Linked DNA regions of Homo sapiens: region 1 is linked to region 2. The links come from fine-mapping of genetic effects on gene expression. A gene starts in region 2. The other region holds a variant in brackets. All regions are shown on one strand. Distances are between the middles of the regions. Region 1 overlaps KIF21B (kinesin family member 21B). Region 2 holds the start of KIF21B (kinesin family member 21B).

Region 1 (5,000 bases), 36 kb before region 2:
GATTCCATATTTGGGAATTCACCTATTTATTAAAATGTATTTGTGGCCAGGTGCAGTGGCTCACATCTGTAATCTCAGTAAATTGAAAGGCCGAGGTGGGAGGATTGCTTGAACTTAGGAGTTTGAGACCAGCCTGGGCAACGTGGTGAGGCCTCAACTCTACAAAAAGTAAAAAAATTAGGCGGGCATGGTGGTGCATGCCTGTAGTCCCAGCTACTTGAGAGTCTAAGGTGGGAGGATCGCTTGAGCCTGGGAGGTGGAGATTGCAGTGAACCCTGATTGTGCCACTATACTCCAGCCTGGGTGATGAAGTAAGACCCTATCTCTAAAAAGAAAAAAATCCTCCTGCCTCCCAGCAAGGCAGGTGGCAAGAGGCCATCTTGAGCCCCTGCTTTCCCACTATTTAGCTGTGTGCCACCAAACCTCTTAATTAAGTGCATGGACCAGAAAACCCTGAAAGTCATCCTTCGATCTACAGAAGCTCTGTGGGCCTGGCCCACATGTGGGTGACCAGCTGGGGACTTCCCTGCCATTCTGCATTGATCTCTTTTTTCCTTTGAATTTCTTTCTTCTTTCTTTTCCTTCCTTCCTTCCTTTTCCCTCCCCCACTCCCCTCCCCTTCCCCCTCCCCTCCCCTCCCCTCCCCTCCCTTCCTTTCCCTTCCCTTCCCTTTTTTTTTTTTTCCTTTTCTTTTCTTTCTGAGACAGTGAGTCTCACACTGTCACCCAGGCTGGACTGCAATGGCGTGATCTCGGCCCACTGCAATCTCCACCTCCCAGGTTCATGCAATTCTCCTGCCTCAGCCTCCCAAGTAACTGGGATTACAGGTGCACACCACCACGCCCAGCCAATTTTTTTGTATTTCAGTAGAGACTGGGTTTCACTGTATTGCCCAGGCTGGTCTTGAACTCCTGAGCTCAGACAATCCACCTGCCTCAGCCTCCCAAAGTGCTAGGATTACTGGCGCCCGGCCTTTCCTTTAAATTTCTAATCTTCTCTCACACCATAAGGCCTTAAAAAGACCTGAAAGCTCCCCAGAACCTATGGTCATGAAAAGGGGCTGAAGCACATCAGTGCAATGACTAATCCAAGCCACTACAAAGCCACTTGTGTTGGGTGCACATCAGCAAACAGTTTCCAGCATCTGGCTCGGCTATGCAGTTTAAGGTGCGTTACAGAAATTACATTTCCTTTTTTTTTTCTTTTTTTTTTTTGAGACAGAGTCTCTCTCTGTTACCCAGGCTGCAGCGTAGTGGCACGATCTCAGCTCACTGCAATCTCTGCCTCCCAGGTTCGAACCATTCTAATGCCTCAGCCTCCCGAGTAGCTGGGAATACAGGCATGTGCCACTATGCCTGGCTAATTTTTATATTTTTAGTAGAGATGATGTTTCACCATATTGGCCAGGCTGGTCTCAAACTCCTGGGCTCAAGTGATCTGGCCATCTCAGCCTCCCAAAGTGCTGGGATTACAGGTGTGAGCCATCACGCCTGGCCCATTTCTTCAGTCCACACCTGACAGGGTGGGGAAGGGACCACTGGGTGAACCTGAATGGCTCAGTCAAGCTGGCCCAGGTTACACTGTGTACAAGATGATCAACAGAGCAGAACATCATAGCCACTCATGTAACCAAGAACTAGACTGGTGGTGACTCTGGAGCAGATTCTAGAACATGATCTCACCTAATGGGCTGCCCTCGGTCGTAGGACTTCCTTCTCGTCAGCGGGGACGTCTCTGTGGCTCGAGATTGCCTAGGGCTACAACAGAAGAGTCCAGTGAGGCCCAGACCCAACTCCACCTCCACTCCAACCCACATTCCTGCTCCCATCCTTACAAAGTGCTGCCCCGGGTAGGCAGACTGACGGTGCGCGAGACCCTGTCCCGGTAATAGGGGTCTCGGACAGAGAAGCCCACTCCGTCCTCTTTGATCTCAACGAGGGAGGCCAGGGACTTGGTGATGTTCTTGGTGGAGATATCCAGTGGGGGGCCCAGGCACTCAGCCGACACAGCTTTCATTTGGGCAGACAGTTTGGGCTCGCTCTGGGAAAAGAAGAACAGGGTGGATCAACTTGCCCAAATTGCATGGCACATAAAGGGGAGCCAGGGGAAATTCTATTTTTTTTTTTTTGAGACAGTGGTGCAAACATGGCTCACTGCAGCCTCAACTTCCTAGGCTCATGCGATCCCCTCACCTCAGCCTCCTCGAGCAGCTGAGACTACAGGCACGTGCCACCATAGCCGGATAATTAAAAATTTTTTTTCTGTAGAGATAGGGTCTCGCCATGTTGTCCAGGCTGGTCTTGAACTCCTGGGCTCACAAAATCCTCTTGCCTCAGACTCCCAAAGTGCTGGGATTACAGGCATGAGCCACCACACCCAGCCCGCCCGGAAATTCTAACAAGAGAAATGATGCCGTCTTGGCCTAAGGTAGAGGACCTGATGGAAGGACCCAGACAGACATCACCTGTGCTCCACAGCTAAACTCTTATGGTTTCTGGAGAATCCAGAGCAACTGAAATGGTTTCACGGCCCTTAGTTGGACTATGTAAACACAGAATGCCCAGCCTGACTTCTTTGCTGGTCACCAGCTAATCAGTTTACCTCAAAACTATGCATAATTTGCTATTCCCAGTCTGAAGCTTTTTCCCTCCTTGTCTCCTTAATAAACCCTGCATCTTGCTTCAGTCTAATGAAACTGATCCCTCATTATTAGGTAAACTTCCTTATTTTTGACTCCCATAT[G/A]GTTGAATTGACTGTGTGCACGTAAGATAACCAGACATTTAGAGGTAGGTTTTGACTTAGAGTGTGAGGCAGAATCATGGGTGGGGGAAAGGGGATATTTTTGAAAGCAGGGCCCCTGGTTATGGTGCTGTTGCTAGCAGGGTGGCAACAGAGGCTAGCGGTGGCTCCAGCCACTTCTCCCACCTTCCACCCACCTCAGAAGGAATGGGCTGCAACAGGTTACATATCTGGACAACCCCCAATTCCAGACTAAATTTTCTTGGCACCTCCCTCCCAGCTGGGGACAACATTGTGTTGTGGCTGAGGGTGGAGCAGAGCCACAGTAAGCGGTGAACAGGCTGTGTGGAGGCTGGCCCTGCTGCACCCACTGCCTGACTTCCGGCGGGGCTCACCTTGAACTTGAAATCGTCATGGCTGGTGGAGCCTTTCATGGTGAATGACTGGGAGAAGCTGAGGAAGAAGCAGAGAGAGTTCAGGATCCTGAGGAGCCCCCAAATTCAGGCTCAGCCCTGGGACCTATGGCAACTCCTCCCACCAGCCCCAGGTACATGCTGTGAGCCAGCCTCTCACTCCCAGCTTGCAAACTCACCTGCCCTCAGAGAACTCTGAGATCTCCTCATCTGTGCTGGCGTAGCCATTCTCTGTGGGAGGGCGGGAGGGAGGGAAAGGGGTTGAGAAGCCCTGTCCAAGTGTCGGGGGAGGGATGATGGTCTCCCTCCTATATCTCACCCACTGGAATCAGACCAGGGCTCCTGGTGGGGGTTAGGGGTGGTTCTGGGGAAGTGAGGGCCTTGTGGGGGTCTGAGCCCAAGAGCACTGGAATGCCAAGGAGCTGGCAGCTTCCAACCGCCCCTACCCGTACCCTGCTGCACATTGTAGATGAGGGCCTGCAGCTCGGGGTGAGCTTCAGCCTTCTCACGCAGGGCGTCCAGGAGCAGATGGTTCTGGGAGGAGCCTGCCATATCCGTCTGCCTCAGTCGGCCCTCCAACAGCCGGATCTGGGCTTCCTTTTGTGCCACTTGCAGCCCCTGGGGGCAGGGAACAAAGCCTGGAGTTACCCCTCCTGGGGGTTGGGAGTCACCCATATCACACAACCTGCACCCCTCAAGACACCTTGGAGTGCTCCTTTCCAGCTCCCAACATCACCCTTGTACCTGGCACAGACCTGAGAGCACCGCCAGCCCCCTTAGCTCCCACATACACACATTAAGTGAAGGTCACCTTAGGACATACCCTATTATGGGCTAGGTTATGTCCCCCCAAAACTCATATTCATCTACAGCCAAGGAGAGAGGCCCCAGAAGAAACCAGCCCTGCCAACACCTTGACCTTGGACTTCCTGCCCTCTCTTGTTTGAGGCTCCCAGACTGGTACTTGGTTATGGCAGCCCTAGCAAACTCATAAAGTCCCCAGACACAAAGCGGAGCTGAGAGGAGCTCAGTGGGGCCCAGAGGAGGGGTCAGGCGGCAGAGTCTCCTGCCTCCTTCCAGAGTTACACAGATGCACACCATGTAGGGTCTGTCCCCAGAGACCACAGGCCCCAGGAGGGAAGGAGGCACATCCTCTGCTTAGCTCTCTGTCAAGGAGAGAGAAGAGGAGCCCAAGAAATGTCGAGGGACACCTGATGTTCTGGTGTAAACCCTCCTGGGTGGAATGTGGTCTGTCTGTAGTTCCCCTACCCCCACATACACACACTTCTCCCTCCACCTCCAGCAGACTCAAGCCTAGCACTGCTTTGGATAGGCTTGGGCCAGACACCCAGAGTCAACTTTAACAGAGGCCCTGTTGTGTGCCAGGTGCCAGGCCACGTCCCTTACACACAGCATCTCGTTAAAGCCATGCAACAAGCTACAAGCTTGGTATGGTCGTCCTCTCAGCTTTACAGCTGTGGCATGGGAGGTGCAGAGGTTAGGCGGCTTGTCCTAGCCTGTGAGTGACGCAGGTGAGGAGGCGCCAGGCCCCTGGGCTTCACACTAGGGTATATCACAGAGGCATCTGTGCCCATAGAGCCCCCTGCCCATGTACGCTCCCAGCTTACCTTGTCAATGGATGCCTTGAGGAAGTTGTCTAGCAGGAGGCGGGCTTCAGCCAGGGAGCAGGAGCTGATGACCACGGATGTGTCTGTGGAGTCCAGCTCCTCCTAGGACCGGGAGGCAGAGAGCCCCGTCACCTGGGGCTACCCCTGCCACCCATCTCTCCCGCCTCCGCCCCAGCAGGCCCAGCCCTGCGGATACCTTGGTCTCCTCCAGCTGCACGAT
Region 2 (5,452 bases):
CCAGGAGCCCAGGCCTTCACTGAAGCGTTTCACAGCCAGCCAGCTTCGATCTCTTCATCCCAAACAGATTGCAGGGCCAAGAGCCTTAGGCCTGGCACTTCTCACCTAGTCTAATAGCCCTGGGACCTCTCTCCTCTACACACACACACACACACACACACACACACACACAATCAGACCACACCTGTCTCATTCCTGGCCTTCCCTGTCTGAAGAGCTGGACTCCAGGCTCGCTATGTTATTCTCATGGAAATTCAGAAGGCACTTCAGTTGGATTCAAGAAAGGACTTCCAGAAAGTCAGAAAGACAGCTGAACCTGGCAGGAGGTAGTGAGCCCTGGGGCTGGACTAGGCCCTGGACAAGCCTTGCCCTTCCCATAAATGGTCTACTGTAGTGCAGCCCACCACCCAGTCTTTCAGGTGAGAGAAGTGATTTCTGGGGGTGCTGCGGGGGAGGATGGGTAGAAGAGGATCTAAAAACAAGGAAAACTCCCCCTACAGCCCATCACTGGTACCATCTGCTCTCCTTCCCAGCCCAGCCCAGCCCCAGCTCAGTCCTAAGCTCTCTGATTAGAAACTGGGTTCTGTCCAGGCATTGTCTGCTGTACACGGCCGGCTGCCCATTGAGGTCTGGCGTGTGCCGGGGCTGGGCGCTCATGCTGGGGTGGGAGGGGAGGAGTGGGCGGGGCCCTTACCTTCCCGGAGACCCTGAAAGCCTGACTTCTGATGCTCAAATGCCCCACCCCCAATCCAGATCAGCAACTGAAAGGCAAGGCGTGGGGGCACCCAGACCCCACTTAGGGCAATCTGACTGGGAACCAGAGATGACACACATGGTCCTGAACTGGGTGCAGAGGGCAGGCATGATCCCTTCTCTGCAGAAAGGGTCCCGGGAAGCTTCTAGAGGTGGCAGTGGGAAGAGAACATCAGCTTCTCCTCACTGTGCCAATCCCATGAGGCTCCCCGGGTGGGAGTCCCACATCTTTTCAGCCCCAGTCCAGCCTGGAGACCTGAACAGAGGTAGGGGGCCTTTGTTTAGCTCTCTCCAGCAAGATGGAATCTAAAGGAAACCCCCTGTGGAAAGGGCACCCCCAAGCCCCTTCCTTCCCAGCCCTCATTCACAATGGGTGGGGGCCAGAGCTTCATTTCCCTTTTATGGTGTTCTCGGACTCTCCCAATCTGCTGCAGATGCCATATTTACATTTCTCACTCCCACCCCCCAGCCATGCACCCCTCCCTCGACCTCCACAAGATCCTGCTGCAATGTCAGCCCCAGCAGCAGCCTGGCCCCGCCCCAGTCAGCCCACCAGGCACCTGCAGGGCTCCTCTTTGTCTCTGGCTGCTCAGGGCCAGGAAAGCTGTGCTCAAGTGATTCTTGAGTGCTGCCTAGGGTGCATGGGTGGGGGTGCCTCAATCTCCTTCCCTTCACCCAAGCACTGATCAGTGTCAGCTCCTCTTTGGGCTGCAGAGGCCTGGCCAGGTGGCCGTGGCAAGGGGCATCTGCCCTGGGGCAGGAAGAAGAAAGCTTTTTCATTGCCATCTCTGACTCTGTCTAGGAGCAACCTCCTAGGACCCCTGGAATCTGGGTCACATATGACCCAAGGGATCTAGAGACCTGAGAGACCTACCCTAGACCTGGACAATCCCCCGCCCCCTCCATCATACAGGGCTGGGGCAGAGATAGATGTTCTTGCCACATCCCTACCTTGGTGAGCAGCTCCAGATTGGCACTCTGCCGCCAAGACACCCCTCTCAAAGAGAAAAACCCAAAGCAAAAACTGGGAGAAGTGGTGAGGTGTGAAGCATCTCCACCCAGCACAAAGAACACAGATGGCTCAATTTCACAGCATTTCCTGCTCCTGCACCTTTGTGTACCCCTCCCAATAGAACCCACCCAGCCATGTCCTCTCCCTGTCTCATTTCTGCCGGCTCAAGTCCCGGAGCTGTTGAGAATGGAACCCCAGATAAGTCTAGGCAACCCTCCCCTGCTCAATTTTATCTGAGTGCCTGAGGATGGGGCATCTGCATCACACCCTCCTGCCCTCTCAGAGAGAAGCACCTCAGATACACCTCTTCCTCCCTTCCTAGGCCCATCTCCTCTTGGGACAGGACTGGTAGGATTCTCCCCCAAAGCCATTGACTTCCCACAGAAGGCCAAGGCATCATCCCAGCTTTTCCGTTGGTCCCCGCACCCGATCTTTGTCTGCAGATCTGGCTCCCAGGGTGGGTGTGCTGCCTTTGCTAGCTGGACCAAGAGCACATAACTAGCTGACTCGCATGGATGAGGGGAAATTTCCCTCTCTGGTATCCCCGTATGAGACAGCAGCCTCGTGGGGAGGCGAAGAGGAAACGCACAGACGCTCCGGCCTGGGCCAGAGCTGGGTGTGAAATACCGGATTTCCTTGTTTATTCGATTTTCTGATCATTAAGGGCTCCCAAGAGGGGCCCAAAATTACCACCCAAACAAAGCCACCTTCCAGTAGTCGGCGGGGTCGCCGCTCCCCTGCGGCAGACTGGCCAGCGCGCGGCGCCCTCCATCCCGTCCCACGCCGGCCCCTCCTCCGGGAGTGCAGGCTCCAGCCCAAGCGGTGCTCGCGCCCCCCGCCCAAAGCCCACGCGAGACAAAGCCCGAGGCTTCTCCGCGCGCCCCCTTCCCCGCCCCGGGTCCCTACCTGACGGCCACCTTGACGCAGCAGTCCCCCTGGCCGGCCATGGCCCTCTGGAGCTAGGGTCTGGGCGTGGATCAGAGGCGGGGGTCTGGGGGCCAATGCCCGAGGCAGCGGCTGCGGCTGCGGGAGGCGGGGGCGCGGGCGCGGCTGGCGGAGGCTGCGGCGGCGGCGGCTGGAGGTGACATGCTCGCGGGCGGCAGGCCGAGGGGCTCACCCGCGGCCGGCCCCCCGGGGCTGGGCCCGCGCGCCTCCTCGCGCCATCGGGCGGCGGCGCGGAGCTAGCTGACAGCCGGCGGCGCGACCCGCCGCTCCCTACGGCGCGGCACACGCGCACACACCTCCCACCCGGCAGCCACCTCCCGCCGCAGCGCGAACAAAGGGGGCGGGGGCCGATCCGGCCCCGAGCCCGCCCCGAGCCAGCCCCGAGCCCAGGCCGGGCCCCGCCCCGCCCAGGAGCCGCCAATCGAAAGCCCTAATGAGCAGTGGGGGCGGGACTCGCGCCTTTAAAGGGACCTCTTGGCTCGCGGCCACGGGGTGGCTGGGGGTAGGGGGCGGGATTGAAGGGTGGGGGTGGGGGTAGGGGTGGGAGTAGGGGTGGGGGCGCTGGACGCAGACCACGTTAGAACCTCGGCTCCTGGAGTAGCAGAACCTCGGCTTCAATGGGACCCTCATTTCATAAATGAAGAAACTGAGATTCAAAGAGGGGAACTACCGAAGGTTACAGAGCGAGTTCGTGGGTAAGCATGGTAAGAACCCTGGTCTCCCGGGGATCCCACAGCGATTGACGGTTTATAGTTCAAAAGAGCCAGGAAAGCTTCCCTTCTGCATTTATTCCAGTAAATTCGCCAACCCTTCTCGAAGGGAGTTCTTGCTAGCCCCTAACTAAAATTTCCCCCACCTCCACCCTGCAGCATCTTAAAGCTCATGTTTTAGTTGATTCCTGGCCAGGCTCCTAGCCCAAGACTAGCCCCTCCCTACTGCTAGACGACTGTCCCATTGACCTTTATGACCCACAGATGACCCCACTGGGCCTGGCTCACACTCTGCTTGTTGTGGCTGTGGGGCCAGAGGGTCAGTGTGGGAGGCCTGAGCTGCCCTGGGGGAAAGGAGGGAACAAAGGGGGCCCTCAGTTCCGAGCACCTGGGTAGAGAGGCTGGGCGGTGAAGTGGGTGGGGAAGGGAAGGAGGGCAGCTGCCTGCAGGAATGGGTATAAAGGACAAGGAGGACCATGGAGACTTTAACGCTGGGCCTGGATGGAGGAGGAGACCAGTGCTGCAAAGTCACAATTCCCTTCCCAGTCCATCTCCCTCCCTCTGAGCCCAGACGCCTCTTCCCTGCCCCCTGCCTCCCAACATTGGGGCCATTCACAGGGCCCCTCACCAGCTGCCCTCACTTCACCCAGCTCCCTCCCCTGGAAAGGGCCCAAGAGGAGGACCCAGCTGCAGCCCCAGATGTGGATGGGGATCTCTGGGGGAGGGGAGGAAGGGGAGTCTGACTCCAGGCCTCTTACATTACCCTCAGATGATGAAACCATGTCAGAGATTTTGGCAAGGGTGTGGACTGGGGTCTGAGGATGCATCTGTTGGTACCATCTTCCTCCCCTTCCCTCCTCCACTCACACCCCCCTCCCCGCCAATAACTGCTTCATGCAGTAGCTCAGATCCCTGTTTGGCTTGACCTATTAAGGTCAAATCAAAACCAAAGATAATTTCAAGGGCAAATTTCAAGGGCCAATCAACACATCCTTTTCATCCCCATGGCAAACAGGAGGAGCACCGCCAGCAGTGCCCCCATGATGGGGGCTGGAGAAGAGGTCTTGGTGGTATCCTGGACCTTTTATTAGCATTTGAATCTAGAGGAAGCTCTCCCTGGGGCCAGGGGATCACCTCTCCTGGACCAGGAGGTTAGCAGAATGTTGCAGTCATATCCTGCAACATTCCTCCCCATCTTCCAACCAAAATAATTCGTGGGGAGGAGACTAACACATATGGACCACCTACACAAGGTATTTTATGCACATATTCTCATTTTTTCCCTATAACCTTGTAAGCTAGGCTTTTTTATTCTTTTTAAATTTTGCAGATGGGGAAACTGAGCCTCACATGTATGAATTCCAGCATATAAGCAACAGACTCCAGATTTGGACATGTATATCTTATTCCAGGCTTCCCAGATGACCACCAAGGTGGAAGGGATGATGATGTCCAGGCAGAAGGGAGCTAGGCCGGCCCAGGCTTTTCCTCTAGGCACAGCGGACTCCAGGTTCAGCCTTCCCGGATGGTAATGTTGCATTCTGAAGAGCTACTTTCCCGCCAACTCATCTCTGGACTTCTCTGGGGCCCAACTCTGGTTTCCTGCCTGCAGGAGGTCCCCTCTGACTTCCGACAGTAGATGACCCTTCTGACTCACAGTTCTACTGCTGGGAAATGCCTCCAGAGCTGCTGCCCACCCTCTCTGCATCCCTCCAGGTCACTGGGTGTTGAGTCAGGGGAAGCAGGGATACACACGGGCGGGAAACTCAGGTCTCCTAAATGTCAGAGCCTCAGGACTTCGGCTACTCAGAAGTAGCTCCCTCCTGGGCCACCAGGGAGCAGCAGGGCAGCCAGCATCCAGACATCCCCCCTGGGTTCTGCTGCTCAGAGGCTAGATGGAGAACCAAGGTGGGAAAAAGGCTTAAACCACAGCGTGGGGAGATTTAGGTTAGATGGGTCAGAGGAAGTTTAGGACAAGCCTTGCCCTTTTCAGTTTCTGTCCAGCTTCAGCACAGCCACTGCTTCCTCTCTT

The links. PIP is the estimated chance that this variant, and not a neighbour inherited with it, causes the effect. A credible set is the group of variants that fine-mapping cannot tell apart.
Region 1: its variant is the best candidate, but not a certain one, in a credible set for the expression of KIF21B in whole blood (INTERVAL, PIP 0.78).

The regions. Positions count from the first base shown.
Region 1 is chr1:200,985,162-200,990,161 of GRCh38, forward strand. KIF21B (kinesin family member 21B) reads right to left here. Exons shown (of 35, transcript NM_001252102.2): 20 at 4,977-5,000; 21 at 4,781-4,882; 22 at 3,605-3,770; 23 at 3,332-3,383; 24 at 3,135-3,192; 25 at 1,835-2,040; 26 at 1,683-1,757. Among named protein-coding and RNA genes, the nearest start is that of KIF21B, 36 kb to the right of the region's middle. The variant G/A (reference allele first, on the strand shown) is at 2,743.
Region 2 is chr1:201,020,672-201,026,123 of GRCh38, forward strand. It overlaps KIF21B (kinesin family member 21B), which reads right to left and starts at 3,043. Exons shown (of 35, transcript NM_001252102.2): 1 at 2,672-3,043. The coding sequence starts at 2,712. It overlaps LOC101929305 (a long non-coding RNA gene), which reads left to right and starts at 3,278. Exons shown (of 4, transcript NR_188464.1): 1 at 3,278-3,414; 2 at 4,833-4,948. RefSeq lists silencers at 420-569, 2,450-2,499, 2,900-3,259, 3,611-3,768 and enhancers at 800-929, 1,238-1,845.